Regions from separate parts of the Homo sapiens genome. Here all the other regions are linked to region 2. The links come from fine-mapping of genetic effects on gene expression. A gene starts in region 2. Each other region holds a variant in brackets. All regions are shown on one strand. Distances are from middle to middle. Region 1 overlaps ZNF410 (zinc finger protein 410). Region 2 holds the start of PTGR2 (prostaglandin reductase 2). Region 3 overlaps LIN52 (lin-52 DREAM MuvB core complex component). Region 4 has its middle 16 kb from the start of LINC02274. Region 5 overlaps ZNF410 (zinc finger protein 410).

Region 1 (6,318 bases), 39 kb after region 2:
TTTTAGGGGCGATGTTCTTGCTCCTTTGCTTGGTTTTGGGGGTAGGGATATAGGAACAGACTGTCCTGAGAAAGCCAGAGTCAGCGAGTCCCCGGGGCGGGGGCTCTTGGACTGCACCCGCAGCCGGGGCCTGCCTACGGACCTTGGGGCCTTATTTCTGAGGCCTTTGTGGTGTGGGGTAGAGGATGCCAGGAGGCCTTGCCCTGAATGTTTCAGTCCAGAGCTACCCTCTCCTTTCATACCACTTACTTTCTGGGTTTGGAAAAGGGACAGCTGCCTACTCGGCTGGGCTGGGTCGCCCGTTTCTCCTTTGCCTGTCAGTTCGGGGGGCAGGAGTGTGTGGATTGTTTACGGCCTTCATACATTTCGTGTCGAATTTATTTTCTGAAGTTTCTCAAGATAATCCAATTTATTAAAGTTTATCCCACTTGATCATGAGGCTCAGAAATGCATTTAGGCACCATTTGGAAGTTAAATATTATTAACTTGGGACTTAAGAATTAGTACTTAGGTTGGAACGAAGGTCAACGCAGCATATTTGCAATAAATAAAAAACATTTGGAAATAAAGTCGGGCATTTTGTTAGGGAGTGAGAAATTGCACTTGGTTTTTTCTTAGTGTGGTGCAGAGTAAAAGACAACTAAAGTAGCAGTCAGAAGTTTTAAGTTCTAGTTTTTTACGTTTTGCATCTAAGTAGATGTCTAATTTTTGGCAAGTTGCTGAATCTCTAGCTCTGGGGAGTTTTTCTGTAAACGAAGGGGTTTACCTTTAGGGCTATGACAATTTTTCCGAGGCACTGAACTTTGAGTAGAAGTGACATAAGCATTTCTTTGTTTTGGAAAGATAACTTGAATGGCTGCATAAAGGATGTATTGGAAAGAGGAATTTTAAACGCGGGGTGACCAGTTAGAGGCCTGTTTTAATAGTATAGTAGAAAGTTACTGAGAGACCTAAACAGGGCATTACAGTAGGGAACAGAGAACATTCTGGGAACAGAGAATCACGGGAATTATTTAAAAATGGAGAATGAGAGAGATTTAAAGACCTAGAATTTGCAGCTGAGTGGGAGGAAGATTGGGCGATCATTGAAATAGGTAATACAAGAAGAACAGGTTTGGTAAGGAAGATAATAATCTGGATTTTGGACATTGTTAGGTTTGAGATGCTGTTGGATATACATGTGGAGATACCTAGCAAGCAGTTAGAAATGAAGGTTTGGAGTTCAGAAGAGATGACTAGAGAAAAATGTAGGTATCATTTGTAGTGTCATTCATTCATTATACAAATATTTAGTACCTACCAGTTGCTTACTGGGAAGCTTGTATGGAAGCCCTTTAAGCTCATAGTAAACACATTAGAAGTGGGAAGTGACCGTTAATGGGCACAGGGTTTCCTTGTGAGGTGATGAAATATTGTAAAATTGATCGTGGTTCTGCTTGTACAACTCTGAATGAACTAAAGATATTTTAATTGTACTCTTTAAATGAGTCAATAGTATGGTATGTGAACGATATCTTAGTGAAACTAATTTTTAAAAAAGATTTACATTGCAGTTTTGGAAATCTGTTGAGTAAGGAATTGGGAATAGGAATGTTTAATTGTGTATTTGCCGTTACACCTATAGCTAATGTACATAGTACGTTGCTCTGTTAAAGATGAGATCCCCACAGTACACTTGATAAGATACTGAGTGCTCTAGTACAAATTCTTTTGAGTTCAGTTGCATATCTTAATGCATCCTGCTATTTTTTATTTTATTCATACCGTACACATACAAATCATAAACTTGGACACAAAAATTGTATGGTAGTACTTAGTTATAATATGAATACCCAGTGCTTGAGAAAATGCTCGTGTTAATTTTTAAAGATTATTGAAGTGAAAACACTGAAATAAAAAGATGTCATAGATAACATAAAAAGGACAGTAAATAGTTGTCTGGTTCCTCAGAGATTTTACAATCCTGGAATCTCAAAGTTGGAGGAACCTTAAGGATGACTTAAACAACAAACATCTGATAATTTCTTGGCTTGTTAAGACAAGCTGGAATTGGGGAAGAGGAATTCTTGTTTTTTTTGAGACAGCCTCCATTTGTTACCCAGGCTGGAGTGCAGTGGCGTGATCACTGTTCAGTGCAGCCTCGATCTCCTGGGCTAAAGCAATCCTCCTACTCAGCCTCCCTAGTAGCTAGGACCACAGGCATGTGCCACCATGTGATGCTAATTGAAAAATTTTTTTTTGTAGAAATAGAGTCTCACTGGCTGAGATCGCGCCACTGCACTCCAGCCTGCGTGACAGAGCGAGACTCAGTCTCAAAAAAAAAAAAAAAAAAAAAAGAAATAGGGTCTCACTGTGTTGCCTAGGCTGAGAAAAGGAATTCTTAGGCCATGGAGATTCAGGGTCAAACCTAGAGAGATGTAATCACTATTCACGCCAATGATTTCTGCATACTTCTGGTGTGGGTGGGAGTCCTGGCTTTGCAACTTAATAACTTGGTAATTAAGTAATATACTGAGCCTTGGTTCCTTCCTCTCTAAATAGAGGGATGGATAAACCATATGAAACTGTTGCAGTGCTTGAATAAGAAAAATATGTGTGGAAGAAAAGTCAGGGATTTATGATACTTTATGTGGGAAACTTGGAAGGAGCATTTCCATTTATATCTTGTAAATGGTTAGTTTT[T/G]TTTTTTTTTTTCTCGACACAGAGTCTTGCTCTGTCGCCCGGGCTGGAGTACAGTGGAGCGATCTCGGCTCACTGCAATCTCCATCTCCTAGGTCCAAGCGATTCCCCTACCTCAGCCTCCTGAGTAGCTGGGTCTGCAGGCACATGCCACCACACCTAGCTAATTTTTTGTATTTTAGTTGAGACGGAGTTGCACCATGTTGGCCAGGATGGTCTCAATCTCCTGACCTTGTGTTCCGCCTGCCTCGGCCTCCCAAAATGCTGGGATTACAGGCGTGAGCCACTGCTCCCGGCCTAAATGGTTACTTTTTTACAATGAAAAATGAGGATTTCAGGTAGCTTAGAAAGAGAGAGGGAGAAACCAACAGGACAAAAAAACATTTATTCAGTTACTTTTTTTTTTTTTTGAGATGGAGTCTTGCTCTGTCGCCCAGGCTGGAGTACAGTGACGCAGTCTCAGCTCACTGCAACCTCCATCTCTCGGGTTCAAGCGATTCTCCTGCCACAGCCTCCCGAGTAGCTGGGATTACAGGCACCCGCCACATGCCCGGCTAATTTTTGTATTTTTAGTAGAGACGGGGTTTCGCCATATTGGCCAGGCTGGTCTTGAACTCCTGACCTCAGGTGACCCACCCGCCTCGGCCTCCCAAAGTGCTGGGTTTACAGGCGTGAGCCACCGTGCCCAGCCTAAGTGCCCTCTTTGTAAAGTCTGTCTTGTTCTACCTTTCCACACTACCTGGTATTAATTGGAAACTTTAAAGTACCCATTGATTGAAAATATACCCATCCTGGATACATTTTACACTGTATGATTATTTGTAATAGTGCTCCCAATTTTAGTAACAATTGTACAAAATAAAATGGACTCACATTCCAAAATCCTGAAAAGAAACTAAGCTATAAGAAAGTAAGAATTTAAGTTATAGGGAGTGGCTGGGCGCAGTGGCTCACACCTGTAATCTCAGCACTTTGGGAGGCCACGGCAGGCGGATCACCTGAAGTTGGGAGTTCGAGACCAGCCTGACCAACATGGAGAAACCGTCTCTACTAAAAATACAAAATTAGCCAGGTGTGGTGTCTCATGCCTGTAATCCCAGCTACTCCAGGAGTCTGAGGCAGAATTGCTTGAACCTGGGAGGCAGAGGTTGTGGTGAGCTGAGATCGTGCCATTGTGCTCCAGCCTGGGCAACAAGAGCAAAACTCCATCTCTAAATAAATAAATAAAAGAGAGAGAACAGCCGCATCAGGGTCCTGAGAGCACTACCTTTGGGAAACGCTCTTCAAATTTTAACTTTTTTTTTTTTAAATGTAATTTTAAAAATTATCAAAACAATATGGTTGCCTTTTAGAAATATTGGAAAATTGAGAAAAGAAAATTAAGTCACACCAGCCTACCACACGGTATAGCTACGGTCATAGCTGTATGAATCTCCTTTTACTTTTTCTGATGCTTATTATAACTAGTTTTAATAATAGCAAGTATATAATTTTGTATTTTATTTTTATAATTTAACATGTCAGTCACTTGTTGTTGCATTGTCTTCATAGCATTTGTTTGTTGGTTTGTTTTTTGAGATAGAGTCTTGCTCTGTCGCCCAGGCTGGAGTGCAGTGGTCTGACCTTGGCTCACTGCAACCTCCACCTCCTGGGTTCAAGGGATTCTCCTGCCTCAGTCTCCCGAGTAGCTGGGATTACAGGTGCCTGCGACCATGCTCAGCTAATTTTTGTATTTTTAGTAGAGAGGGGGTTTCACTATGTTGGCCAGGCTGGTCTCGAACTATTGACCTCAAGTGATCCACCTGCTTCAGCCTATCAAAGTGCTGGGATTACAGTTGTAAGCCACCACACCCAACCCTTCACAGCATATTTTGAAGTGACAGTGCCATATTTAATCAACCATTCCCTAATTGGGGGTGTGTGTGTGTGTATACATTGCTTCCAGTTGTTTATTACATAGGATAAGACGGACATCTTTGGACATAGCTCTATCCATATTTAAGATAGTTTTTTAGATTATTAGAGGTTGAAATACTGCATCAAAGCGTAGTATTTTTATGGGTTTTGATGCCTGTTGAGCTTGTTGTATTTTAAAAGAAGTGTTTCGGTTTGAATTCTTTATTTGCTTGCTTGTTGTGATTTTTTTTGTATATGTAAAGAAGTGTCTTTATGTACCTGTGTTTTCCCACTGCTCTTAATGCCCCCTCTCTCTTTTTTACCCCTATTCTAGGTTACATTGATTACCCACCTAGTACAACATCTTACGGGAAGAGCATAGTATTTCCTAGAGGAATATGAACATAACAGGAAGGTATCATTGGCTCTGAATTAAATTTGAACTTGTCCCCTGAATAGCTACAGGTTTTGGAAGCTGAATCAATGTTATCAGATGAGTTAGAATCCAAACCAGAGGTGAGCCCAGTCAGCTTGTTTCCTTTTCTTTTGGTGGGCTATATTTCAAAGTTTATCTTCAGTTTAGGGGGTCAGCAAACTTTTTCTTTAATGGGCCAGATAATAAATATTTTAGGTTTTTTAAGCTATATGGTTTTGATTGTTACTATTTTTTCAAAGATTTAAAAATTATATTTTTTGTGATTGTTTTTATATCTGTTTTTCAGTATATGTGAAATCATACATTTAGATAATGTAATAAAATCTTATAAATAAAAATATATGTTTATGTATAAATATATACATAAATATGAGATACATGTGATGTATAGGTGTATAAGTATATAAATATTTACTACTACAAATTCTTTTGTTTATTTTATATATATCTGTAAGTATTTTCTTTCTAAATGTGATTGGGGATTTAAACATTTTTTGTTGTTCACTTTTCTTACTTTAAATTTAGCACATCTGTGTTGCAGAGTGGTCACTGAATTTGGAATCAGATTACTTAAATTTGAGGATTGGCATTGCTCCTAACTAGTCTTGTGACCTTAGACAAGTCACTTAATGTCTTCAATTTTATTCCTCAGCTGTAAAATATGCCTTAAGTTTGGGTGCGGTGGCTCACGCCTGTAATCCCAGCACTTTGGGAGGCCGAGGCAGGTGGATCATGAGGTCAGGAGTTCAAGACCATCCTGCCTAACATGGTGAAACCCTGTCTCTACTAAAAATACAAAAAAAATTAGCTGGGCGTGGTGGCGGGCACCTGTAGTCCCAGCTACTTGGGAGGCTGAGGCAGGAGAATGGCGTGAACCCAGGAGGTGGAGCTTGCAGTGAGCCAAGATCATGCCACTGCACTCCAGCCTGGGCAACAGAGCAAGACTCTGTCTCAAAAAAAAATACATCTTAAATCTTACTGGGTTAATGCGATAATTAAATGAGCCAGTACACAGAAAAGTGTTTTGTAAAATGTAATCAATATGATGCAGTTGATTTTTTTTAAGCCATTATTTTAAAATGTAATTATTTTTATCATTTCTCTGTTTGACAGAAGGTGGCAGAGGTTAACTTAATTACAGTGAAGTGTCACTTAGCGATAGAGATACATTCTGAGAAATATGATGGTAGTTGATATCATTATTATGCGAACATGGTAGAGTATACTTACACAAACCTGTATGGTTTAGCCTGCTACACTCTAGGCTGTATGGTATACCTTATTGCCCCTAGGCTGCAAACCTATAC
Region 2 (6,498 bases):
TTCAAGCCATTCTTTTGCCTCAGCCTCCTGAGTAGCTGGGTTTATAGGCGCTCGCTACCATGCCCGGCTAATTTTTTGTATTTGTATTTGTATTTTTGTATTTTGTATTTTTAGTGGAGACAGGGTTTCACCATGTTGGCCAGGCTGGTCTCGAACTCCTGACCTCATGTGATCCGCCTGCCTCAGCCTCCCAAAGTGCTGGGATTACAGGCATGAGCCACCGAGCCCAGCCAGGTGTGGTTTTTATCTCTTACTTTGTTCTGTTATCTCTTTAGGATGTATGTTTGGGTTTGAATTTGTGTCATTATGAACAATTATCACCTCCATGGAAAAATGTTTTATTTAGCATCAAATAATCTTTGATGTTGCACTAAGTGTCATATACCATGCAGGTTGGTCAAACTTGAATGATTTCTCCTGAGTAATTTGCTATCATACGAGGTTATTTTCATTTAAAAATAATTTAATGAATGAAAAAACTAAAAAATAATTTAATGAATGAGTATACAAACATATTAGATTAAGTATTTATATTTATTTTATTTATTTATTTATTTCTGAGATGGAGTCTTGCTCTGTCGCCCAGGCTGGAGTGCAGTGGTGCAATCTCTGCTCACTGCAAGCTCTGCATCCCGGGTTCATGCCATTCTCCTGCCTCAGCCTCCTGAGTAGCTGGGACTATAGGCGCCCCCACCACGCTCAGCTAATTTTTTTGTATTTTTAGTAGAGACGGGGTTTCACCGTGTTACCCAGGATGGTCTTGATCTCCTGACCTTGTGATCCGCCCACGTCAGCCTCCCAAAGTGCTGGGATTACAGGCGTGAGTCACTGCGCTCGGCCAAGTATTTATATTTATTATGCATTTTTTTTTTTAAGAGACAGAATCTCATTCTGTTGCCCAGGCTGGAGTGCAGTGGTGCAAACACAGCTCACTGCAGCCTCGCCCTCCTGGGCTCAAGTGATCCTCACACCTCAGTCTGTCAAGCAGCTGAGACAACAGGCACACACATCACACCAGGCTAATTTTTAAAATTTTTTGTAGAGGTGGGTTTTGCCATGTTGCCTAGGCTGGTGTTGAACTCCTGGGCTCAATCGATCTTCCTACCTCTTGGCCTACCAAAGTTCTGGGATTACAGGTTTGAGCCACAGTGCCTGGCTTTTTTTTTTTTTTTTTTTCTTTTTTTGAGACAAAGTCTTACTCTGGCACCTAGGGTGGAATGTAGTGATGAGATCATAGCTAGCTGCAACTTGGAATTCCTGGGTTTAAGCGATCCTCCTGCCTCAGCCTCATGAGTAGCTGCTGGGACTGCAGGTGTGTGCCACCACACCTGGCTATTTTTTTTCTTTTTGTTTTTTTTTTTGGTTGTTGTTTGTTTTTTGTAGAGATAGGGGTCTCCTATGTTGCCCAGGCTGGTCTGAAACTTCTGGCCTCAAGTGATCCTCCTGTCTCGCCTCCCTAAGTGCTGGAATTATGAGTGTGAGCCACTGCACCTGGCCTATATTTATCATGCTTGAATGAAACAATATATACTATGTATTTTTTTTTGATAAGATGGAGATGAGAAGAATTGACACTTCCTTCTAGTGAAGTCTAGAAAATGATTCTCAGGGCTGGGCGTGGTGGCTCATGCCTTTAATCCCAGCACTTTGGGAGGCCAAGGCAGGTGGATCACCTGAGGTCAGGAGTTTGAGACCAGCCTGGCCGACATGATGAAACCCCATTTCTACTAAAAATACAAAAATTAGCTGGGTGTGGTGGCATGCACCTGTAGTTCCAGCTACTCAGTAGGCTCAATTGCTTGAACCCGGGAGGCAGAGGTTGCAGTAGGCCGAGATCGTGCCACTGCACTCCAGCCTGGGCGACAGAGAGAGACTCCGTCTCAAAAAAAAAAAAAAAAAAAAAGAAAAGAAAAAAGAAAAAAAAGAAAATGATTCTCAGGAATTGCTTGAACGATGAGAAGGAGGCAGTACAAAGTTCTGCAAAGAGGGAGGAGTAGGGAATTCCAGATTTATGGCAAATATAACAAAGGGTCAGGTGCTTGGACTCAGGCAGGATAACTTGCTCCTTTACTTATTAGTTACTTAACCTGACTTAGAACTTAACTAGCTTAACTTCGGTTTCCTCATTCGTAAAATGGTAATAATAATAATAGGGCTGTTTTGAAAATTAAATCATGTAGGCAAAAAATCATATAAGGCATTATCCAACTCAAACTACGCATTATGTAAATGATAGTAATCCTTGGTGTTAGAGAAAATTTAGAAGAAGAGGATAAACTGGATAGAAATGTACCTATAAATCCTCTACTCATCTCTTGAATTTTTGGGAACTCATTTTGGCGAGAAAAATCACACTTGTTACAAGGAGTTCACAGACCCTAGAATCAAGAGAGCTAAAACTAATTAATACACATACATATATTTAAAATTTTTGAGACAAGGTATCAGTCTGTCACCCAGGCTGGAGTGCAGTGGTGTGATCAAGGCTCGCTGCAGCCTACTGAGCAGCTGAGAGACTACCAGCAAGCACCACCACACCTAGCTAATTTCATTTTATTTTTTATTTTTTGAAGAAATGCGGTTTCACCACGTTGCCCAGGCTGGTCTCGAACTCCTGACTCAAGCAATCCACCTGCCTCTGCCTCCCAAAGGTCTGAGATTACAGGCGTGAGCCACTGCGTCCAGCCCCAAAACTAATTTAATATTGCAGGGCTTCTTTTCTATTTTGAAAGTGTTTCTTTTAAATCAAGTTCTAGATTACCTTTATTTTATACTACTACTTTTTGTCTATTTGAGCATTTTATTTTTCATCATTTGGTTTAAGTCATTACAAAAGGCATTGAAGGTCTGTCTACCTGTCCATGACAGATAAAAGAGATTAGCTCCTGTCTGAAAATGTTTGCAAAGTAGTGTAATTCTCCTAGTCCTTCCTGAAGCTTTCCCAAAGAAGCAAAAATATTCAGACATAAAGCTACCAGGAACTCCAACCTGTTTGATCACTATTCCCTTGCTCACCAACCTAGTCATCTTTCAGCTACTCCATGCATGACTTGTGCTGAGCTATTAGCTCCCACATGAATACAAGCAATTCTTATACCTGCCTAATTCAGATGATCTTTCTTAGGGTTTGAAGTCCCTGGGGATCCGAAGCTGTCCTAGGTATACACTTCTCTCAACCCAGTCCAGCACAAAAGGAGACGACTAACGATGAATGAAATTGAGAAATCAGCCCACACTGGTAATCTTGGAGGAATTTGGTATTCTTCGTGAAATAAAAGAGGCGCAAAGGGGCCCTGGATTAGGGTCCGGAGAGAGGGGTTTTATCCCAGCACTGCCCCTAACCAGCTGAAAGGTAGGTGGTCCAATCACATCAGCTCTCCGAGACTCAGTTTCCCCATCTATAAAACAAGGAGTAGGCTTGACGGTCCCTGTCTCACTATAATTTCCCAATCGAGGTTCAGGGAGAAATCCACAAAACTAATAAAACTTCTTCACGGACTGCTAAATGTGAACTCACTGGTCAAGGCTGCAAGATTTGCTCTTTGGGTCAAGGCAGTAGGGGCGGCCACAAGGAACCAATCTCAGTTAAGTTATTAATGCACTTTGCCCAGACTAGTAACTCTCCCCTGACGTTCCGCATTTCCCTTGCTTCTCCCGGAAACGTGGGGCGCCCAGGAATCCTAAACTTCCAATCCCTAAGCTTCCAAACCCCGCCCCTGGGAGGGGAGGGGGCGCGGAGCCGGGCCTAGTCGCGCGCCTGCGTACTGCGGTCAGAGGGCCGAGGCCTGGGGGCGAGCTGGGGTCGTGCAGTACAGCCTCTTTCCGGCAAATCACGCGAGATTTCGTTCACCCGGGCTCCACAGGGTCAGTGACGCGCGAGCGGCTCCCGCGACTGTGGCTCCCGAAGCTGCTTCGGGCCCCAGCGGTGAGGAAGAAGACTCTCAACCAGGGTGACTTCTAGGCGTCCTCCCGGAGCTACCGGGGACACTGGCGTTATTGCCCGCAACACTGAGATAGGGAATGCTCGAGAAACAGAAGCAGGTTTTGGGGTTTTTTTTGAATTACTGGGGGAAAGCAACCTGAGGTTTTGACGTAATTGTGTTTGAGGTGCCTCTGAAACTTTCATTTAACACAGATTTGTTGAGCACGTACCATGCGCCGGGCATAGGGGATTGGACTCACATTTTTTTGTGTGTGTGACGGAGTCTCGCTCTGTCTGTCGCCCAGGTTGGAGTGCAGTGGCGCGATCTCGGCTCACTGCAGCCTCCATCTCTCGGGTTCAAGCGATTCTCCTGCCTCAGCCTCCCGAGTAGCTGGGATTACTACTGCGCCCGGATAATTTTTTGTATTTTTGGTAGAGACGAGATTTCACCGTGTTAGCCAGGATGGTCTTGATCTCCTGACCTCGTGATCTGCCTGCCTCGGCCTCTCAGAGTGCTGGGATTACAGGCGTGAGCCATCGCGCCCGGCCTGGATTCACATCATTGAACAAAGCAGACGAGTCCTTATCCTCTTAGCGCTGACGAGCTGGGCAGTTAGTTTGAAATTCTGGGCTAGAGACGCAAATTATTATTAATTTCCATATAAAGTGGTTGGTAGGAGGAGCCACAGGGCTCAGGGAGGTCACTGAGAAAGGGAAGAGCAAGATAGGAATCTCCACATGCAAGACTTCGGGAGGGGAAGGGGGAGACCAGAAAACCGGAAGGGGAGGAGAAGACTGGCAGAGAGATCCAGAAAGACACGTGGTTTGTTTGTTTGTTTTTTGAGACAAAGTCTCGCTCTGTTGCCCAGGCTGGAGTGTCCTGGCTGGATCTCGGCTCACTGCAGCCTCAGTCTCCTGGGTTCAGGCAGTTCTCCAGCTTCAGCCTCCTGTGTAGCTGGGACTATAGGCGCCCACCACCACGCTTAATTTTTGTATTTTTAGTAGAGCGGGGTTTTCCCATGTTGGCCAGACTGGTCTCGAATTCCTGGCCTCAAGTGAGCCTCCCACCTCAGCCTCCCAAAGTGCTGGAATTACAGGTGTGAGCCACGGCTCTGGGCCCAGAAAGATACGTTTTATAACAAGGCGTGGTCAACAGGGTTGCTAGTGGCAGAATAATCGCACGAAATAAGGGTATTAAAAGGTATTAGGAAGCTCATGTGATGGAAATAGCAGGTGCCGTGTTGGAGTATGGGTTCTAGCGTTATTACAAGTTGGGCGACTCTGGGCGAATTATTCTCTTTCTGTACCTCTTTTTTCTTCTCTTTTTTCTTTTTTTTTGAGATGGAGTTTCGCTCTTGTCGCCCATGCTGGAGTGCAATGGCGTGATCTCGGCTCACTGCAACCTCCACCTCCCGGTTTAAAGCGATTCCCCAGCCTCAGCCTCCAGAGTAGCTGGGATTACAGGCGCCCGCCACCACGCCGGGCTGATTTTTGTATTTTTAGTAGAGGTGGGGTTTCGCCGTTTTGTCGGAGCTGGTCTCAAACTCCTGACCTCAAGTGATCTGCCCACCTCAGCTTCCCAAAGTGCTGGGATTACAGGCCTGAGCCACCATACCCGGCCCCTTTTCTCATCTATAAAATTGAGAGGATGATATTACCAACCTCACAGTTTTTTTGGGGTGAGGGTGGGGGAGGTGGTTTAAACAGGCTAGTGAATGAGTCTGTGCTCAGTTCCTGGCATTTAGGAATATTAAGGAAACAGGTTGAGAGAAGGGACTTTTTCCAAGTTCCCACCTGGTTAGAACTAGGAGAAGTACTCTGTTCTTCCTACTTAAATGACCTTTCCCTTTTACCAGGCTGCAAGGTAAACACTCAACACACTCTATCATCACATCGGAGCAAATTCGTCTGTTATTATTTTGGAATATTAGCACCAAGTAGGAATAGTATCCCAGGCAAATAGGATTTGCTGAGTTTTTTTCCCCTACTTGGGATGAATTTAACAATCTACCCTTCTTTCAGATCTTGGAACTTGATGTGTCTTATTTTAGCTGTTAATTTTATGACTAAATCTAGGTATCTATATTTTATTTATTTTTATTATTTATTTATTTTTTTGAGACAAAGTTTCGCTCTTGTCCCCCAGGCTTGAGTGCAATGGATCAGTTTCGGCTCACTGCAACCTCCGCTTCCCAGGTTCAAGTGATTCTCCTGCCTCAGCCTCCGGAGTAGCTGGGATTACAGGCACCCGCCACCACGCCTGGTTAATTTTTGTATTTTTAGTAGGGCAGAGTTTCACCATGTTGGCCAGGCTGGTCTCAAACTCCTGACCTCAAGTGATCCACCTGCCTCAGCCTCCCAAAGTGCTAGGATTACAGGTGTGAGCCACCGTGCCCAGCCAAGTTATCTATATTTGAAATGTGTGTTTTTTTGGTACTATTGAGGGATATCACACAATTATCCTATATTAATTGTAGTATTTGACACTTGAAAAGTTTCTAATTTAATGCAGAGTGAGAGAACTTTAATAGTATATTTTTCATGCTGATAAGCAGTGTTTGGACAAATCTATAATA
Region 3 (6,498 bases), 350 kb after region 2:
ACTTCAGAATAGCTTTGTACAGTTTTAGTTGTCTATAGTGGTTTGTTTTTACCCCCTTTTAGGTTAGTTGGTGATGATTGAATCTGTTGTGATAGCAACTTGATATATAATTTAAATCAATCTGCATTTTTAAATTAAATCTTCCTATGATTCTTTTTTCCGATTTTAGGTTTTCATTGATCATTTGTTTGCTTTGTGATTCCAGCCAGAGAGATGACACGGGGGAAATTCCTCAATATTCTAGAGAAGCCCAAGAAGTAGCAGCTGCTTGCGGACAGGATGTCCTGGGGTCCGAAACCAAGCTCCCTTCCCGGTGCACCTCTAACAATGCACACCTCACTGCTTGCTTGGGAGAGGCCAGAGGGTGTACCTCCAGGACTGCCCTCTCCCCTGCTCCTGGCACTCTACACGTCTGAGGACATTCAGCAGCAAGAGAAGAATCTGCTCTACCCAAGGATCATTGCAGTTACTCAATCAACTTTCAGACTTGAACCTTCTTAGCCTCGGATATTGGTAACAGCTGAGGGCATATCATTCTTAAAGGTCGAAGTCCTGCTTTCTCATTTCTGGAAGTGATTCAGGAGCCCCAGGATCTTACGGTTGATTTGACTCAGTCATGGCAGTCAGTTGTGACATGTTGATTGGATGGGTTCTTTTGAATTGTTCTTGATCTCTTAGAAAGTGTTTACGATGTGAGGAGACCAGAGACCAAGTAGATTCTGGACCAGACCATGCAGCCTGACCTGTGAACTCTCCAGTATATACTAAGTTCCCAGAATCCCCAGCTGAAGAAACCAGAATCTTCTCGAAATGTATATCTGTTTTTTAAAACTTCTATACCTCTTATGATAGTCCCATTTGCTTTTCATTCCTTACTTCCCAGCCCCACCTTCTAGTTCTGACTTCGGGCAGAGGGATCCCTGAGTCCCTCCTGGAATTAGCTTGTATAGTGAAAGGCCCATCCAAGGTTGTCTAAAGACCAATGTGAAGGTGACAGAAAGGACTTTTGAGTTCTAATTAATCTGTTACAGCTTCAAGCAAGAAAGTCAGTATAGCCTGAAAGACAAGAGAAACGGGATGGTTTATAGGAGTTCCCATTTGGTTGAAAGCTAGAAGCCCTAATTGACCTTAAAGTAACATGCTATGGGATGGTGGGATTGTCCCCTCTGACAGCACATATGAAATAGTTCATCTATATAATAGAAACGCACACACACGAAAAAGAATCTTCTGACTTAAATACAACTTTCATGGAGTTCTTCACCACTTATCTGTCTCTGTTAAAATCTGAAAATCTAGCCCATGGCTAAAATCTATTATATGTGTTCTCCATATTTCTTGTATAAGCCAGTCCCCAGCATCTGATGTTTTGAGAAGTGCATGGAGTTTCCTAAACTTTGCACAAAAGAATATCCTGGGGCCGGGCATGGTGGCTCACGCCTGTAATCCCAGCACTTTGGGAGGCCGAGGCAGGTGGATCATAGGTCAAAAGATCGAGACCATCCTGGCCAATATGGTGAAACCCTGTCTCTACTAAAATACAAAAATTAGCTGGGCATGATGGTGCATGCCTATAGTCCCAGCTACTTGGGGGCCTGAGGCACGAGAATCGCTTGAATTCGGGAGGTGGAGGTTGCAGTGAGCCGAAATTATGCCACTGCACTCCAGCCTGGGCAACAGAGTGAGACTCTGTCTCAGAAAAAAAAAAAAAAAAAAAAAAAAAAAAAGAATATCCCTGTGGCAATAGTCTGATGGTGTTTGGACACAAGAAAAGTTATGGTTTTGAGTCGTGAGTGTTTGCTAGGGCATGGCACTCTTCAGTTTAACAGCTGATCCATTAAACCTTTTCTGACATTTGTGCCTTGTTCTCATGCTAGAATTAATGCTGGATTTTTCTCTCATTTGACCATCAATGTAGTTTTACTTATTGAAAGGAAAAAAGACTTAACACAAGATAGGAAAGATGAGTATGAGAAGTAAAACATTCTGCTGGGGTGCTACATAGAAGGTTAGGTTGTAGGGGCTTTGATTTTAATTTAAACTTATTATCGATTGATATTTCTGTATCTCACTAAATGCGGTTGAAGAGTGTGTGTGTGTGTGTGCGCGCGCGCATGTGGCCAAAAAATAGTGCCATAATGTCAAATTCTTCCTTTGCTCTGTTTTTGAGAGTTGATGACATCAGGCACTTTTCAGTGTTTGGGGAAATTGATTGGGATACCTCCCCCAAACCAACTCAAGTCTGTAACTGGAAGCCAGGTGGTTGGTTTTCTGGTCCGCTTTGTCCTCTTTCTTTTACCGTCATCCTATTCACCAGCACTTAATGTAAGTAGATGTTTTAGAATTGCAATATTTATTGGTTTAGTATTTGTCATCCTTAGAAATGTTAATGATGTATTTTTATATTGATAATATAAATTTATGTACAGTATGTGTGTATATGTATTTCAGGATGTTATAGTATTGTACTTTGTATGTGATGGTTTTTGTGTCTTCATAATAAATATGTCCCTTTTACAGGAGGGTGAGTTTTTCCTCAGAGGGCCGAGTTGGATATTTAAAGCACAGACCTCCCCAGAAAGTACAACTGTAATGATAAATAATCTACTGTTTTCCCCCTTAATATACTTAATGGATAGTTGGGGGCTTTACAGTCATCTACTTGGTCTCCTGCCTTCCATTCTATCCTACCACTGCCCAACACCCGAAAGTAGTATTTAGAAACCCTTAATACCTTCCCGTGTCTACTAATAAAGTCTCAATCTCTTGACCCGGCATTTTAAGACTCTCTACATGTAATCCTAAGCAACCCTTCCGTTTCGTTTTCTTCCTCTCCTATATATGAAGTCTC[T/G]GTTGCAGTTACTCTGAACAGTTCCCAGTTTCTCACTTGAGTGCCTTTGCTCCTGCCTTTGAGTTCCTAGAAGGTCTTGGATCCCTTTTGCATCTGGCAAACCTATGCTTCCTATAATCTCCTGATGATCCAGCTGGAAATGGTCCTTCCCCTACATTCCTATAGCATTTACCCATATCATCCCTGTGACTCTTACCATAGTCTGCCTTATATTTAAGTGGTCTGAGTACTTTTTCTTTTTGAGACAGAGTCTCACTCTGTTGCCCAGGCTGGAGTGCAGTGGTGCAATTTTGGCTCACTGCAACCTCTGCCTCCCGGGTTCAAGCGATTCTCTGCCTCAGCCACCCTAGTAGCTGGGATTACAGGTGCATGCCACCACGCCCAGCTAATTTTTGTATTTTTAGTAGAGACGGGTTTTTGCCAAGTTGGCCAGGCTGGTCTCGAACTCCTGGCCTCAAGTGATCCTCCCGCCTCGGCCTCCCAAAGTGCTGGGATTACAGGTGTGAGCCACTACGCCTGACACTGAGTACATATCTTATTGCCCTACTAAATTCAAAGCTTCTCAAGGTATAGCTGTCTCCTGCACATCTAGTTCTTCAGTGTCTTTGAACTAGGGGTTCAAAACCTGTTTGCTTGCAGGCTTCTGGTTACACATGATAGATTGAAAACAAGTATTTATCTGCCATCTTCTAAATCCCTTAGTGTGGGTTCCTTTTCAACCATGTTCAAGAACTAGAAAAGAGGAAGTACTCATTATTGCTACTGCTATCACTCATTGATAGTTTACCTGCTCTGGACCAGAATATGCCCTTTTAAAGAAAGCATTTCATTTTAAGGAAAGCAAATTGCTTCTCATCATAGGCCCATCATTTATTTCCAAAAAAGACATCTGGATGAACAGTAGATTTCTGTGATCTAGAAAAGCATGGCTGATTGACTAAGTAGGGACAGTGTTAGGAGTGTTCTAAGTCTTTAGAGACTATTTTTACGGTAAGTAATTGTTTATTATTTGCCTACAGATATTTTTTCCCTTTTCCTTTGCCATTCCAAATACCATCCTGTAAAGCATCTGTCAGCTGTGAGCAGCAACATTCTGAAAAGCATAGTATTGGAGCTTGGAGACACATTTGCAAATTCTTATTGACATTTTTTTCTTACCAGCACTCTCATTATTTCTTGCTGTCTTCAGTCTCACAGATTCTAGGCCTCTGCTGATTTGCTTGGCCTGCCTTCCATAGGTTAGAACACTTAAAGTTCACAGGGTATTAATTGTGTTGATATTGAAATGCCATCATTCATTTTTATCTTTCCATTTTTGTCATATTTTTTAAATGGATGCTTGCTAACTGCTCCGTGGTTTTAGTTCTCTAGCTGCTCTTCTGGATGCTCCCAGATCAAGGCAGTGAAAATGGAACTGATGAAAGTCATTCCCTTGTCCCTGTGGCTTCAGAAGTGTGTTTGGACTTCCACAGGAGCTTTGAAATGAAGCCGAGAAATTTCATTTCCAGTGGGATTCCCTGACCCCTCCTGTTTCCTCCAGGATTAAGACATCACAAGAAGGTGAACAGGCAGAGCAGGAAGTGAGGAAATGGACAGTTGGGCCAAGGTGGATGGTCGCAGAAGCCAAATAACACAGTCTCTTACCAGTTCTCAGCTTCTGCACTAACTCCGTCTCCAAGAATTTGGTTATGTTCTCCATTTTCTGTTTTCTTCATCTCGTGAGAGCTACAAGGATACCTGGTCCCTATGTGGGCTTTGTTTCACCAGAGAGTCTTGCAACCCCCAACCCCAGAGAGTGGCAAAGGGTGGTGTCTCCACGGTTGTAAGTTCTGATGGACTGGAACTGATTTTTCCTATCTATGTAGGCTTTTTGGCATTTGGGGTGTGTGTCCTTGTCTATGCCTAAAGAGGCCACTGGCCTTCCCACCCTTTGCCTGGCGCTTTTTCCTCTCGAGCAGCTGGGGGCTTCAGACGATACCAGGTGTAACTGTGAGGCTCCTGGTTGGCGTGAGTGCTGGCAAAGCCTGTTAATTAGCACAGAAACACCCCAGTGCTCCATTAGCTGGGCCAGGCATTTGGAACCTTCCCCTCCTGTGGGCCCCTTCCTCCTAATGAGAGCTGGAAGAAGGGCCCTCACAAAACACTGCCTCAGAATAATATTCTGCTTTGTCCCCACCAGTAACCAGGGCTGACAGGATCACTCTGTCCATTTCTCTTCTAATTAGCACAATTCCAGCATGGCCTGAGCCAGCAAATAGAGAAAAGCGATCAAAAGCGATCGGACAACCGTACCGAATCACAAACACAAAGAGGGCCATTCCCTGTAATTAGGTGAGACAATTCCTCAGTCTTTTCTCGGCTGGAGTTTGCCGCTAAGACTCTTGCTGTTTGGGTCCCAGCAACACAAGTTACATGTCTCCCTGGGACACTAATAAGCCCCAAATTGTCTTCCGCTTCACACAACTCTACCCAGAGGACAGACATGGGGTGGTGGGGCAGGTGGCGGGGAGGGGGTGGGGCAGTGCAGTGAGGGGACGGGTCTCCCAACAAGCAGCTGCTGCAATGTTTCCCCAACTTCAAGAAGCAGACACTGGGGCTGTGGGCAGAGAGGTAAGAGTCAGTTGGCTTGAGAGAACTGCTCTTGGCACAGCCTGGCCCCTGTCACTTGAGCTGGAGTCTGAAGCACTGAGAATTTCTGACCCTCAGGGGAAGCCCCCTCTCAGCTATTTGCCCTACTCTGTTCATTCGCTGCCTCCTGTCTATGGCCCCCTCACTCCTCCCACCTCTGCAGACTGGTAGCATCACTCCAGGAACTACATTGAGCCCTTCACAAACTGTAAGCCCTACACAACTATAGTTACCATTGCAAAGAAAGCTAACACACAGCACGTGAGTGAATTCTGCCCTAGAAGACTGCATGACCTGGAAGGGGCACCCACTGCCCCCCTCACTCTGGCCTTCATTTCTAGCACCCATCACCTTTATGTCCCTGATTGTGTCCCCAACCCCTGCCTACTATCTCCTCTCTCCTGAAAGATCCCTGTTTTTTTAAAACAGAAAAGTGGCCCATCTGCCAGGGCAAGAAGCTGTAACTGGCCGCGCTCCATGTGGCTCAGAGGTTGGTCACTTAATGAACAAAAACAGCTCCCCCAGGATTGCAGCCCATTACGGGGATTACTTGGGGCGATACAGCCGTAAACTTGGTCATAGCCAGGGACAAAGGAATGCAGGGGAGAGTGGCAGTTGGAATCTCAATTAAACCCAAGTTCGGAGCAGAATTGGGCTCACATATTTTCATCTCTCTCTTGCCCTCTGCTTTCTGTCTCGATCTCTATACCTGATGTTTCTGAAAGTGACCTCCAATACCAAAGGAGATTCAGTTATGTAGAATCTGAGGAGCCAAAAAACTCAAGTAATCAGAGTTGCATTGTTTTTCTACCTTCAGTTTTCTGAGGCACAGAGAGGATAATGATAAGATTTGACTTTTAAAAATAACTTTTGGGACATGCCAAAGAATTGATCCAAATTTGTTCAATTTCCTACAGTTTCTTTGGTTATAAACAGAACTACCTGGCACATAATAGGTGCTAAAATAAGCATTTGTTGAAAGAATGAACTGTGCCTTGACATTCGGTGTTCATAGCCTC
Region 4 (6,498 bases), 37 kb before region 2:
AATTAAAAATTAGCCCAGCGTGGTGGCACACACCTGTACCCCCAGTAACTCTGGAGGCTGAGGTGGGAGGATCACTTCAGCCCAGGAGTTCAAGGCTGCAATGAGCTATGATTCTGCCACTGCATTCCAGCCTGGGTGACAGCGCGAGACCCTGTCTCAAAAAAAAGGAAAAAAAGAAAGAGTCTGCTCTCTCTGGTTTCATTCTTCCTGTTCACTCATCTGTCCCTACTGTTCCACTGAAACTTCCCTTGTAAAGGTCACCAGCAACTTATACGTTGCAAAATCTAATGGGTCTACCTCTGCCATCGTAAAACTTGACCCTTCAGTAGCATTTGACACAGTTGACCACTTCCTCCTTCTTGAGGCATTCTTCCTTCTTCGTTTTAACGATGATACTCTCTCCTGGTTTTCCTCTACCTCTATGGCTATAGAGATAGACTCTTCTCAGTCTCCTTGGCAGGCTTCTCCTTTACCTGACCATTAGTGTTGGGGTACTTTAGGGCTTGGTTCTGAAATAGCATCTAGTCGCTGTCTAAAGCTCTCAAAATGATCTCATCTACTCCAGAGCTCTAAATACCACCAAAATACTGATGACCCCCAATTTTACATCTCCATGCCTGAGCCCAGACTCATCCATCCTCCTCTTGCTTTATGTCTCCACCTGGCTAACAGGCACTTCCAATCATGCATTTCCACAATCGAGCTCTTCATTCTCTTTATCCTCAAAATCTCTCCCTCTCCTCTCCCCTCCCTTTCACCCCTTTAGCTTCTTTATCCATCTATTTGCACAGGGCAAATTCTAGAAGTCATTTTTCATTCTTCCTTTTCCCTCATCCCACACATCCAGCCCATCACCATGTTTAGTCAGTTATATTAAATACCTCTTGTCTCTACCTCACTTTTCTTTACATTTCCGCAGACACATTCTTAGTCTAAGCCACCCTCATTTTTCCCCTGGACAACTGAAAAAGCCTCTTTAGTGGCCTCCCTGCTTCACAACAGTCCCTCCCAAATACATTCTCCACCAGAAGTGAGAATGAACACTTCAAAAATGTAATTTGGGGCCAGGTGCAGCGGCTCATGCCTGTCATCCCAGCACTTTGGGAGGCCGAGGCGGGCAGATCACTTGAAGTCAGGAGTTCGAGACCAGCCTGGCCAACATGGCGAAACCCTGTCTCTACTAAAAATACAAAAATTTGCGGGGCATGGTGGCAGTCCTAGCTACTCGGGAGGCTGAGGCATGAGAATCACGTGAATCCAGGAGGCGGAGGTTGCAGTGAGCCAAGATCGCACCACTGCACCCCAGCCTGGGCAACAGAACAAGGCGCTGTCTCAAAAAAAAAAAAAAAAGTAATTTGGTGATATATAGTCATTGTCTCATTAAAGGGGTATTTATTGAGTGTCTGCTATTGTGCTATGTATCAGACAGTGAACAAGTCTCTGCTCTTGAGAAGCTTACAGTCTCATGCTGAGAGACAAGCAATAAACATAATTAAATTCATATGTTAGAAGGTGATAACCGCATGGAAAAAAGTAGATCAGGTAAGGGGATCTCAGGGAACATAGGTCTATGTGTTTGTTGCAGGGGGTTGTAATTTTAAATTGGGGAGTAGGAAATGTTTGATCTCTAAATATCATTTCCTACTAAAAGAGTTCCTAAGAGAAATGTCTAATTCCATGCCAGAGCTAAGAAATGCTTAAGATGATTCTGGAACATCTTGTTACACCAGAAAGCAAAGAACCTAACAAAGACCGTTGGGGTGGCATCAAAAGGACCCAATAGCCAAGTTCAAGAGACTCTCATTGGCCAAATATGGAACAATTTGAGTGTCTGAAAGAATAACAACTGCAATGGGTCAAAATATATACATGTCAAAATACCTGAGTTCGGCCTGGCGTGGTGGCTCACACCTGTAATCCCAGCACTTTGGGAGGCTGAGGCAGGCAGATCACCAGGTCAGGAGATCGAGACCATCCTGGCTAACATGGTGAAACCCTGTCTCTACTAAAAATACAAAAATTAGCCGGGCATGGTGGCGGGCACCTGTAGTCCCAGCTACTTGGGACTACAGAATGGTGTGAACCCGGGAGGCAGAGGTTGCAGTGAGCCGAGATCGCACCACTGCACTCCAGCCTGGGCTACAGAGTGAGACCCCGTCTCAAAAAAAAAAAAAACGAAAAAAATCTGAGATCATAATGATACTTTTAAAGTCAAGAACACAACCCATTGGTCACTTTTGGCAAGTTCTAAGGAACCAATTAATTATTCTGAAAACTGGTAAAGAAAAGGACAGAGTTAAGCATGTAGCCTGCTTTCTCTGTATGAAAATAACCAAGGAATCCAAATAGTTGACAAGGAAAAGTTCCTCTTTATAGACATATTCCAGCTAAGAAATGAAGAAAAAAGATAGAATTAGAATATCATCATTTTACAGCCTCTAGGGAAATAATCAGTCTAGGCCATGATCATCAACAGCTTCTAACATCGCAAAAAGAGCGAGAGCCAGATATTCAGCTCCTGACGAATGGACACAATACATCTTGTGAAGTAGTTTGGGTTTCCAGATAAAACACACAATGTTTAGTTAAATTTGGATTTCAAATAAATATCAAATAAATTTTAGTATAAATATATCCCAAACGTTCCATGAGACATACATATGCTGAAAAATGTTCAAGGACCAGGCTGGGCATGGTGGCACACACCTGTAATCCTAGCACTTTGGGAGGCCGAGGTGGGCGGATCACGAGGTCAGGAGATCGAGACCATCCTGGCCAACATGGTGAAACCCCGTCTCTACTAAAAATATAAAAATTAGCTGGGTGTAGTGGCACGTGCCTGTAATCCCAGCTACTCAGGAGGCTGAGGCAGGAGAATCGCTTGAACCAGGGACTTGGAGGTTGCAGTGAGCTGAGATCACGCCACTGCACTCCAGCCTGGGCAACAGGGTGAGACTTTGTCTGCCCCCACCCCCCCAAAAAAAAAGTTCAGGGACCGGGCGCGGTGACTCACACCTATAATCCCAGCATTTTGGGAGGTCGAGGCAGGCAGATTGCTTGAGCCCAGGAGTTCAAGACCAGCCTGGGCAACATACCAAGACCTCACCTTTACAAAAAATTAAAAAAGTAGC[C/T]GGGCGAGGTGGTGCGCACCTGTGGTCCCAGCTTCCTGGGAGGCTGAGGTGGGAGGATCGCTTGAGCCTGGGAGGCAGAGGTTGCGGTGAGCCGAGATCGCCACTGCACTCCTGCCTGGGCAATACAGCAAGACTCTATTAAAAAAAAAAAAAAAAGCTCATTATCTGAAATTAAAACTTAACTGGGCATCTTGTATTTTTATTTACTAAGCCTGGCAACCCTAAAAGTAGTGTGGCCAAAATAATCACACGTGAACCCACTTTAACCTCAAAATCTAACTACTACGAAATACAGCAATATTGTGATCAGCAACATTCAGACTGTGAGAAACTTTGTCCTGCAGAACAGACCAGTCAACTTTTTCAACACGTAGAAAAAGAGAGAGAGAAAAAGAGACGGAATTTGGTTTAGATTCTGATTCAGTAAATCAAGGGTAGGTGCAGCCACTACAAAAATTAGTCTGGCTTCTGAGAATCGCCCTTCCTCTGACTCCAGGCTTCCCCTGGGCTTTCACGTCATAGTGCAGCAACACCAAACCACTTTGAATTGAGGCCCCTTAGAGGCAATCTTGAGAGATGCTTGGGGCCAAGTCTTGTTTCACTAAACCAGGTTACAAGTGGAGGGGTGATGTGAGGAGGGGAGAAAAAGCTAAGATCTTAGTTTTTGGGATGGGATGAGATGAGAGCTGAGGTGCAGCAACTGCAATGGGAGAGGGCACTTTGGGGAAGGAAGCAGAGATGTTTTTAAAAGGCGATGATTGGGAAGTTTTGTTGGTGATGTGTGATGTCTGCCCCTCCTTTTCCTGCTCATGCCTTTGGAGCGGGTAATTTGGATGCTGGGCTGGATCTACAGGGCTTAGAAGTGTGGTTGAAGGCTGAGTGTGGTGGCTCACGCCTGTAATCCTAGCGCTTTGGGAGGCCAAGGTAAGTGGATCACTTGAGGTCAAGAGTTCGAGACCAGCCTAGCTAACATGATGAAACCCTGTCTCTACTAAAAATACAAAAATTAGCTGGGCATAGTGGCACAGGCCTGTAGTTTCAGCTACCCGGGAGGCTGAGGCAGGAGAATCACTTGAACCTGTGAGGCAGAGGTTGCAGTGAGCCAAGATCCTGCCACCGCACTCCAGCCTGGGCGACAGAGCAAGACTCCATCTCAAAAAAAAAAAAAACCATGCCAGGTGCAGTGGCTCATGCCTGTAATCCCAGCACTTTGGGAGGCCGAGGCAGGCGGATCACGAGGTCAGGAGTTCGAGACCACCCTGGCCAACATGGTGAAACCCGGTCTCTACTAAAAATATAAAAATTAGCTGAGCATGGTGGCGGGCGCCTGTAATCCCAGCTACTTGGGAGGCTGAGGCAGGAGAATTGCTTGAACCCAGGAGGCAGAGGGTGCAGTGGGCCGAGATCGTGCCATTACACTCCAGCCTGGGCAACAGAGCAAGACTCCGACTCAATCAAAAAAAAAAAAAAAAAAAGAGGAAGAAGGGTGGACGAAGAAGTCATGGCTACCTTCAGGCCATATCACACCAGATTCTATTTAGATCTGTCTCCCTGCCATGAACCCCTCAAGGGCACAGACTGTGTTTCCAGCTTCAGATTTCCTATTGCCTATTAAAGTGTCTGTCACTTCATACATATCTGGTGAATAAATGAATGAATGAATGAGTGAATAAAGCCTCCTGATTTGCAGAGATGGTGGTCTTCTGATATAACAAATTGTGCTCATCAGATATACAATTGCCTTATGGAACACTGAATTTAACCTTTGCTATGTCCACACACCAGGAAGGAATATTCTAGACTTAGCAACTAGGCTCAGGCTGGGCATTGTGGCTCACACTTGTAACCCCAGCACTTGCAGAAGCTGGCATGGGAGAATCACTTGAGCCCAGGAGTTTGAGAACAGCCTGGGCCACATGGCGAGACCTTGTCTCTACAAAAAATAAAAAATTAGCCGGGTGTGGTGGCATGTGCCTGTAGTCCCAGAAACTTGGGAGGCTGAGGTGGGAGGATGGCTTGAGTCTGGGAGGTTGAAGCTGCAGTGAGTCGTGGTTGTGCCACTGCACTCCTGCCTAGGCAATAGGGCAAGACCCTGTCTCAAAAAAGAAAAAGAAGAAAAGAAAGAAAGAAAGGAAAGGAAGGAAGGAAGGAAAGAAGGAAGGAAGGCGAAGGAAGGAGAAGGAAAGAGAAGGAAAGGAAAAGAAAGAAAGAAAGGAAAGAAAAGAAAAGAAAAAATGCACAGAACATATTTGGACAATTTAACAAATAATTACAAAGCAGCTCTCTGTGTAACCAACACTTGCGTCAAGAAATAGTAATGACCGGGTATGGCAGTTCATGCCTGTTATCCCAACACTTGGGGAGGCCGAAGTGGGAGGATTGCTTGAGCCCAGGAGTTAAAGACTGCAGTGAATTATGATTGCACCACTGCACTCCAGCCTGGGTGGCAGAGCGAGACCCTGTCTCAAGAAAAGAAAAAGAGAGAGAGAGAGGGAGGGAGGAAGGGAGAGAGAGAGAGAGAGAGAGAGAAAAGAAAAGAAAAGAAGGAAAGTAGGTTCAGTTCACTGGGTCAGAAGCCCTGGAGTCACTTTCCCAGGCATCTTGAGACGCTTTCCTATGTGAATGGAAAGCCCAGCTTGCTTTCTGTTTTCTCTTGCAGTTCAGCTTTGTGAGTGTCTGTAGTGTATGTGTCTTGTGATGTGTTATGGGAGCTGTGATGAGGCTTACATCACAACCAGAAGATGACCTTGGAAGGAGAACCCTGGACAAGGCAGGAAAAATAATGAGGGCAATCAAGAGTCTGGAAAGCCCTGGCAGCTATGAAAGGTTTGAGCCATGCACCAGTCACCATCTGTGTACTCAAGAGAAAGAAAGAAGAGATGAAAGATACCGCTCCCTTCACCCCGCGCCTCTATCTAGAGGAAAGAATAACACAAAGAAAAAAAAACATGAGAGAAAGGCTGCCTCTTGAGAACCCTGGGCTTGACTTAAAAGGTTCTCCTTCTATGACCATGACGTAATAAGTCATTTTTTATATCTGAATAACATTGTTCTTCTACAGCATCATCTTATGAGCTATAAATGTATCCCGTTGATACTGCCACTAAAATATTTTGGGTTTTTTTTCCTGAGGTTTTTAGAGGAAAAAATCAGGACTTAATCTTTTTTTTTCCTGCTTAATCATACATTTTATTCCTCAGACATGGTTCAGAAGGACTCTGGATGGTCCAAAAACTCATATTCGCCTGCAAAGGTGGAGGTTGTAACCACCGGGAACATGCTATGAGTTAGGCAGACATTATTCAGTGAGGAGGCCTAGAAAGGCATAGAGGCGGCAGCAGCACAGGTGCAGTAATGAGAAGGCGCC
Region 5 (6,498 bases), 78 kb after region 2:
CTGCCTCCCAGGTTCAAGCAATTCTCCTGCCTCAAGTCTCCCAATTAGCTGGGATTACAGGCACCTGCCACCAAGCCCCACTAATTTTTGTATTTTTAGTAGAGACGGGCTTTTACCATGTTGGCCAGGCTGGTCCCAAACTCCTGACCTCAAGTGATCCACCCACCTCGGCCTCCCAAAGTGCTGGGATTACAGGCGTGAGCCACTGCGCCCGGCCAGGAATTGGGAGTTTTTGTCCTAAAGATTTTCCCACATTCTGGTTTTGGCTGATTGACTCCTTTTGTTAATATTAATTTCTCTATCCACTGTATTTCCTAAAAACTGGTAGTTACATTTAGAGGTTTGATTAGATTCAATTTTTCCCCCTTGGCAAGAATATTTCATAAATGGTGCTCTTGCTTCCTATTACATCTCATCAGGAGGCACATGACAATCAGTTGATCTTAAGATTGACTGGTAGGTTATGTAAAGGTTTTGGCAACCATTACTGATCATAGCCTAGATCTATTTTTCATTAAGGCCTGCAAAATGGTGATATCCTAATTCTCTTGTTCCCTCTGTGTTTATTATGATTTTTTTTTTTTTTGAGGTGGAGTCTTGCTATGTTGCCCAGGCTGGAGTGCAGTGGCACCATCTCGGCTCACTGCAACCTCTACCTCCCGAATTCAAGCGGTTCTTCTGCCTCAGCCTCCTGAGTAGCTGGGACCACAGGCAGGTGCCACCACGCCCGGCTGTATTTTTAGTAGAGACGGGGTTTCACCATGTTGGCTAGGCTGGTCTTGAACTCCTGACCTCAGGTGATCCACCCGCCTCAGCCTCCCAAACTGCTGGGATTACAGGCATGAGCCACTGCGCCCGGCCTAATTGTGATTCTTTTATACAAGAAATACTTCTCTCATCAACCATAGGGTTGCCCTGAAATCGTCATTTCAGGAAAACCATCTCGTTTTTCTTTTACCTAGTACACATTATTATTCGAGCAAGCCAACCCACAGCACCTAGCCTTTTCTTTTTTATATTTGAAACCTCAGAGCTTTTCTCTCCTGTATTGGTAAATATCTTTAAAATTCTCCACGTTACCCAAATAAATGCCAGATGTATGAAAATTTAATTCATTCAGCGGCTAGTTACCACATACCTAGTATGTGTGGGGCATTCTGCAGGGTACTAGTTATACAATAGTAAACAAAATATAGTCTCTGCCTCAAATAGCTTATAGGCAGAATTAGGACCTTCATAACTATATATATGGTGCTGGAGTTGCACTGTACAGTGAGGTTAGGATGGGAGAAGTGACCAATTAATCAACCGGCAATTTTTTTTTTTTTTTTAATTTTTTAGACGGAGTCTCACTCTGTTGCCCAGGCTGGAGTGCAGTGGCACAATCTCGGCCCACTGCAACCTCTACCTCCTGGGTTCAAGCAATTCTCATGTCTCAGACTCCTGAGTAGCTGGGATTACAGGCGGCCACCACCACACCCAGCTAATTTTTTGTATTTTTGATAGAGACGGGGTTTCATCATGTTGGCCAGGCTGGTCTCAAACTCCTGACCTTAGGTGATCCACCCGCCTCGGCCTCCCAAAGTGCTGGGATTACAGGCATGAGCCACTGCGCCCAGCCTAAACTGGCAGTTTTTAAGTGTAGTACGTTCCAGTCTTGGGAGAAGTCAGAGAATATGTTTTAGAGTTTAAGTTGAGATGGGAGGGATGAATAGACATCATCTTGATGGAGAAGTAGGAGTTGGAAGAATATAACAGGCAGAAGGACAGCAGTGTGTACAAAGGTAGAAGGTAAGGGAGTAGAGGGCCTCTGTGGAACTGTAAATAGGGTTGAGTGTGATGGGACATGGGATGAAGAGATGGGCTGGAGAGGAAAATTGAGAGCTGGAAAGATAAGCTAGTCTCTTGAAAGGTCTTACAAGGCATGATTTTATCCTGGGGGCACTGAAGAACCACTGCATGGTTTGAAGTAGGGTATGACGTGATCAGATTTGTGTATTCAGAATATCCAGTAATAGTACATTTGTTCCCTAGAACCTAGGCACAAGTCTTGGAATTGGCCTCAGAGCATCCATGTATAATAGGTGCTGCCCACTTACAGCCTCAGGGAGACAGCATAACACAGGCTGCCTAAAAAACGAAAGACCTGGGTGTGGTGGATCATGTCTATAATCCCAGCACTTTTGGAAGCTAAGGTGGGAGGATCACTTGAGGCCAGAAGTTCGAGACAAGCCTGGACAACAGAGCAAGATCCTGTCTCTACAAAAAGTTTTTTAAAAAATTATCCAGGCATAGTGGTGCATACCTGTAGTCCCAGCTACTCCAGAGGCTGAGGCAGGAGGATCAACTTGAGCCCAGGAGTTCGAGGCTGCAGTGAACTATGATTGTCCCACTGCACTCCAGCCTGGGAGAGATCCTATCCCAAAAATCAAACAAAAAAAGGAAGTATGGTCTTCACTCCAGGAAGGCACAAAACCCAGTTTCATAATGGAAGCCCAAAACACTTAGAAAAATATTAACAACACAAAAGGGAAAGTGCTGTCCTGGATGTAGCTCAAAATCCTGCACTGTCACTTTTTCCTCATGGGTTTTTGTATATTTACAAACATACCCTCTGTCTGAGCCTCACTTCTTTTGTGTTTTCTTCACTTTTAGCATTATTCTCCTCCTCGTATCACAGGCATTTCCACTGCTTATCCCCTCCTTTTCTTTCTTCACTAGTTTGGGTCCTCCAATACCTTCAGTTTTTTTTCAAGCTGTGAGGCCCTCAGGGTTCCAGGCTTAGGCCTCTTCCTCATCCAAGGTCTAGGTAATAACTTGCTATTTCTCCAGTGAGTGAGGAATGTTGATTCCTTAAGAACTTTCAGGTGCCAGAGAAGGTGAAGGCTATTTGCAACACATGTCCGTTTCACCTTTTTTGGAGATCACCAAGCAGTATGGATCAAAGTCTACTGATGAACTTGTACTTCCTGTAAATATGCTCTAAAAATAAAAATAGCT[T/C]ATCAAGAATATCAGAGAACAACCAAATCTGTTATCAGAAATTTTCATGAGAGGCTGGGTGCGGTGGCTAGCACTTTGGGAGGCTGGGGTGGGAGGATCAATTGAGCTTAGGAGTTTGAGACCAGCCTGGGCAACACAGGAAAACCCCATGTCTACAAAAAATAAAATAAAATTAGCTGGTCCTAGCTACTTGGGAGGCTGAGGTGAGAGGATCACTTGGGCCCAGGAAGTTGAGGCTGTAGTGAGCCATGATCTTGCCACTACACTGCAGTCTGGGTGACAGAGCCAAACTCTTTAAAAAAAAAAAAGAAGAAAAATTACCATGGGAAAAATATCAGAAACTACAAGTCACCTCTCTGGTTCAGGTGGACAATCTCTATTTTCCCTCATTATTGTGCCACATCTGAGAATTAGATGGAGGACTCATTGCACAGGCCCAACTGGGAACCCCAGGGCTTTTGGGCTGTCATACTTACTAAAGGTCATTCTAAATGGGGCTCCATATTTACATTGAGTTCACATTCTTGAACTCAAGAACCAGTATAAGAGATTCCCAGCTAGTTTTGACTACCTCTTAGAATGCTTTCCAAATCAAGGCACAAATAGAAATTACAAATTCTATAATATTTCTCATAAAGTACCTTTGCTAAGTTTGACTGCAAAGATCTGGATCTTGGCCTCCATTAAAAACACACTATTCTTAACTTTCCTGCCACACAGCATCAAATGGAATATGTGGTTTCTTTAAGGTTTAATTTTTTCTTTAGATTTTGTTTAAAAGTCTTTAAATTCCATATAATTAAACTCTTAAAAAAAAGTTTTTTTGGTGGATACAGTGTCTTACCATGTTGCCCAGGCTGATCTCAAATTTCTGGCCTCAAGCAATCCTCCTCCCTCAGCCTCCCAAAGTGGTGGGGTTATAGGCATGAGCCATGGTGCCCAGCCCAATCATTAAATTCTACTGTATAAATTACCTTCATCCAAATTAGGATCACCAAGTAAATACATCTCAAGCTGAAGAATTTATTTGATTAGATTTTAATAAGTTGTTTTTGTTCTGAATTTTACTGAATTGTTCCCATCTCATTTTTGTGTGTCTGAAAACAGTCTCAGTCTGTCACTCAGGCTGGAGTGCAGTGCAGTGGCATGATCATAGCTCACTGCACCCTTGAACTCCTGGGCTCAAGTGATCCTCCTCCCTCAGCCTCCCAAGTAGCTAGGACTGCAAGCATGTACCACCATGCTTAATTTTTAAAATTTTCTTGTAGAGACAGGGCCTCACTGTGTTGCCCAAGTGGGTCTCAAATTTCTGGTCTCAAGCAGTTCTCCTGCCTCAGCCTCCCAAAGTGCTGGGATTACAGATGTGAGCCACTGCACCCAGCCTCATTTTGTTTTTATATTAAAATGGAAGCCAATTTCATTATTTCAAAACTCCTTTGAATAGAGCCTTGTGTATAGAGTAGAATGTTAGTGGTAGTTGCCATTATGCAGGAGTCCCTTAGGCTTATCATTCTTTTAAGCCCAAGGAACCCCTAGATCTTTTATGAGTGGGTTTCAGCTCTCATATAGTACTTATAAAGGAACAGCTCCTCTTCCTATTTCCTTCTCCTACTTGAGCCTTCAGCCTATCCTTTGGCTGACACGTATAAGATTTTGGTTCCACCATTTCTGTTTTCCCTGTAAGTTAGAGATTCCTCTGTCACTGACTGATGAGTAGGTAACTACACAAACAATAGTTTGGCTTATAGACTCAGAATATTTGATTGCCAGAGTTAAAATGCCAGCCTTATGACATGGCTAAAGTGCTGTCCCAAGGCCACAGTGACATCTATCAGTCCGTGCATGTGTTTGCTTTGGAAGTAGATAGCCTTCATTCACCCCTGTAGTGCATTCTCCATCCTCCACTCTTAATACTTTTTACTATGAATTATTTTTTCTATAATTCAACTGTAACCTATTCTAGATTTGCTTTCAATCTTTTACAGTTACTAAACCAAGGAGATTTAACTGAAAGACGGACATGAGCGTGGGTGCTGACTCCTGGAAGAGCAACTCTATCTGATCTCAAAATGCGTATACTGGGAACAGGATGCCTTAGCCCACAACAGAACCAGAATGAATCTTTGAAGGCACAAGACTCTGCTTTTGCCACTCTTCCTCTTTCCTGGTATAGAAGATGGATGTAGGAGAGCTTCTTTTCTAACTACCATCTGATCAGACAAGGAATGAAGCAATGACTGTGGGCTGGGAAACTGTACCTACCTCTCTTCCCACTGCAAATTTCTGGGATAGACCAAAAGTGAATTTGATTATGTGTTGGCTGAAGTTCTTCATTCTGACTGTTGAGGGGAGGTTTTCCTTTGAAGAGTTTTCATCCCAGACTCAGCTGTCTTTTCACATGGATGAAATAATTCCTGCTACCAACAACAGAGCTTCACCAGGAAGTTGAGTTTTCAAGATGCCTTGTTGCTTTGAAGAAGGGAGTGATGTCAATTCTCTTGTTACATTCTCCCTTTAGCAACCTGAGTAAGAGACTCTCTGCCACTGGGCTGCAAAAAAATAAATTACTTGAATCTCCCCTTGGCCCAGGCTGAGGTACTATCTTGTCCTATACACTTCTACTTGGTCACTTTGCTTTCTTCGTTAATGGAACATACAGTAGCATGTTAAGAGGGATTTCATGTTTTTGTTTTTTTAAAGTTAAAAATTACATGATGCAGAGATTCAGGTTTTCCTTTAAATAAACAAAACAGCCCAGTCAGTTCTTTGGCTCTTGTTTTATACAAAATTTGTTTTCTTAGAGATTAAGAATTTAATCTTTCCCTTTAAAATAGTGTATTGATTTACCCTTAGGATTCCATACCAGTAAAACTGAACCGAGGAGTCTTAGGAAACAACAAGAACATCTTCATTTCTTAAGCCCAGGTGATAGTTACTCTGTCACCACCAAAAAAGACGCATCTGAGAAAATGGCAATAAAAACAGATACTTCTGAATTTTTCCACAAAGATAGTTTTTTTAAAAAAGCTTGAGAAAGGTGCTTTAGTTAGAGCAGGCACTCTTGCTATCAGTCATCCTGTCTCCACAGCTACTGAGAAAATATCCACTCATCATCATTATGATTTGAGATGGGGTCTTGCTCTGTCACCCAGGCTGGAGTGCAGTAGTGTAATCATAGCTCAATGTAACCTTGAACTCCTACGCTCAAGGCATCCTCCCACCTCAGCCTCCTGAATAGCTAGGACTATAGGCATGTACCACCAGTCCAGCTAACTTTTTGTGGTTTTTTTGGTAGAAATGAGGTCTGTGTTGCCCAGGCTGGTCTTGAACGCCTGGCTTCAAGCGATCCTCCTGCCTTGGCCCCTCAAAGTGCTGGGATTACAAGCATGAACCACTGCACCGAGCCAGAATATCCAATTATTATTGGTGAGAAGAAAATTATTCCAAAGTTCACCTACTAGTAGAAAATCTTGGTTGTCTGGGAAATTTTAAGTTTAC

Evidence for each region.
Region 1: its variant is fine-mapped to the expression of PTGR2 in lung (TOPMed, PIP 0.92).
Region 3: its variant is fine-mapped to the expression of PTGR2 in skeletal muscle (GTEx, PIP 0.98).
Region 4: its variant is fine-mapped to the expression of PTGR2 in whole blood (TOPMed, PIP above 0.99).
Region 5: its variant is fine-mapped to the expression of PTGR2 in whole blood (TOPMed, PIP above 0.99).

Annotation. Positions count from the first base shown.
Region 1 is chr14:73,887,118-73,893,435 of GRCh38, forward strand. ZNF410 (zinc finger protein 410) reads left to right here. Exons shown (of 12, transcript NM_021188.3): 2 at 4,910-5,091. The coding sequence starts at 5,059. Among named protein-coding and RNA genes, the nearest start is that of ZNF410, 3.4 kb to the left of the region's middle. The variant T/G (reference allele first, on the strand shown) is at 2,683.
Region 2 is chr14:73,848,080-73,854,577 of GRCh38, forward strand. PTGR2 (prostaglandin reductase 2) reads left to right here and starts at 3,752. Exons shown (of 10, transcript NM_001146154.2): 1 at 3,752-3,864. RefSeq lists a silencer at 3,486-3,888 and an enhancer at 3,498-3,547.
Region 3 is chr14:74,198,717-74,205,214 of GRCh38, forward strand. It overlaps LIN52 (lin-52 DREAM MuvB core complex component), which reads left to right. Exons shown (of 6, transcript NM_001024674.3): 6 at 206-2,777. The coding sequence ends at 261. Among named protein-coding and RNA genes, the nearest start is that of VSX2, 37 kb to the right of the region's middle. RefSeq lists a silencer at 3,457-3,657. The variant T/G (reference allele first, on the strand shown) is at 2,852.
Region 4 is chr14:73,810,726-73,817,223 of GRCh38, forward strand. No RefSeq gene overlaps it. Among named protein-coding and RNA genes, the nearest start is that of LINC02274, 16 kb to the right of the region's middle. The variant C/T (reference allele first, on the strand shown) is at 3,132.
Region 5 is chr14:73,926,518-73,933,015 of GRCh38, forward strand. ZNF410 (zinc finger protein 410) reads left to right here. Exons shown (of 12, transcript NM_021188.3): 12 at 4,986-6,004. The coding sequence ends at 5,024. It overlaps FAM161B (FAM161 centrosomal protein B), which reads right to left. Exons shown (of 9, transcript NM_152445.3): 9 at 5,759-6,498. Among named protein-coding and RNA genes, the nearest start is that of FAM161B, 20 kb to the right of the region's middle. The variant T/C (reference allele first, on the strand shown) is at 3,001.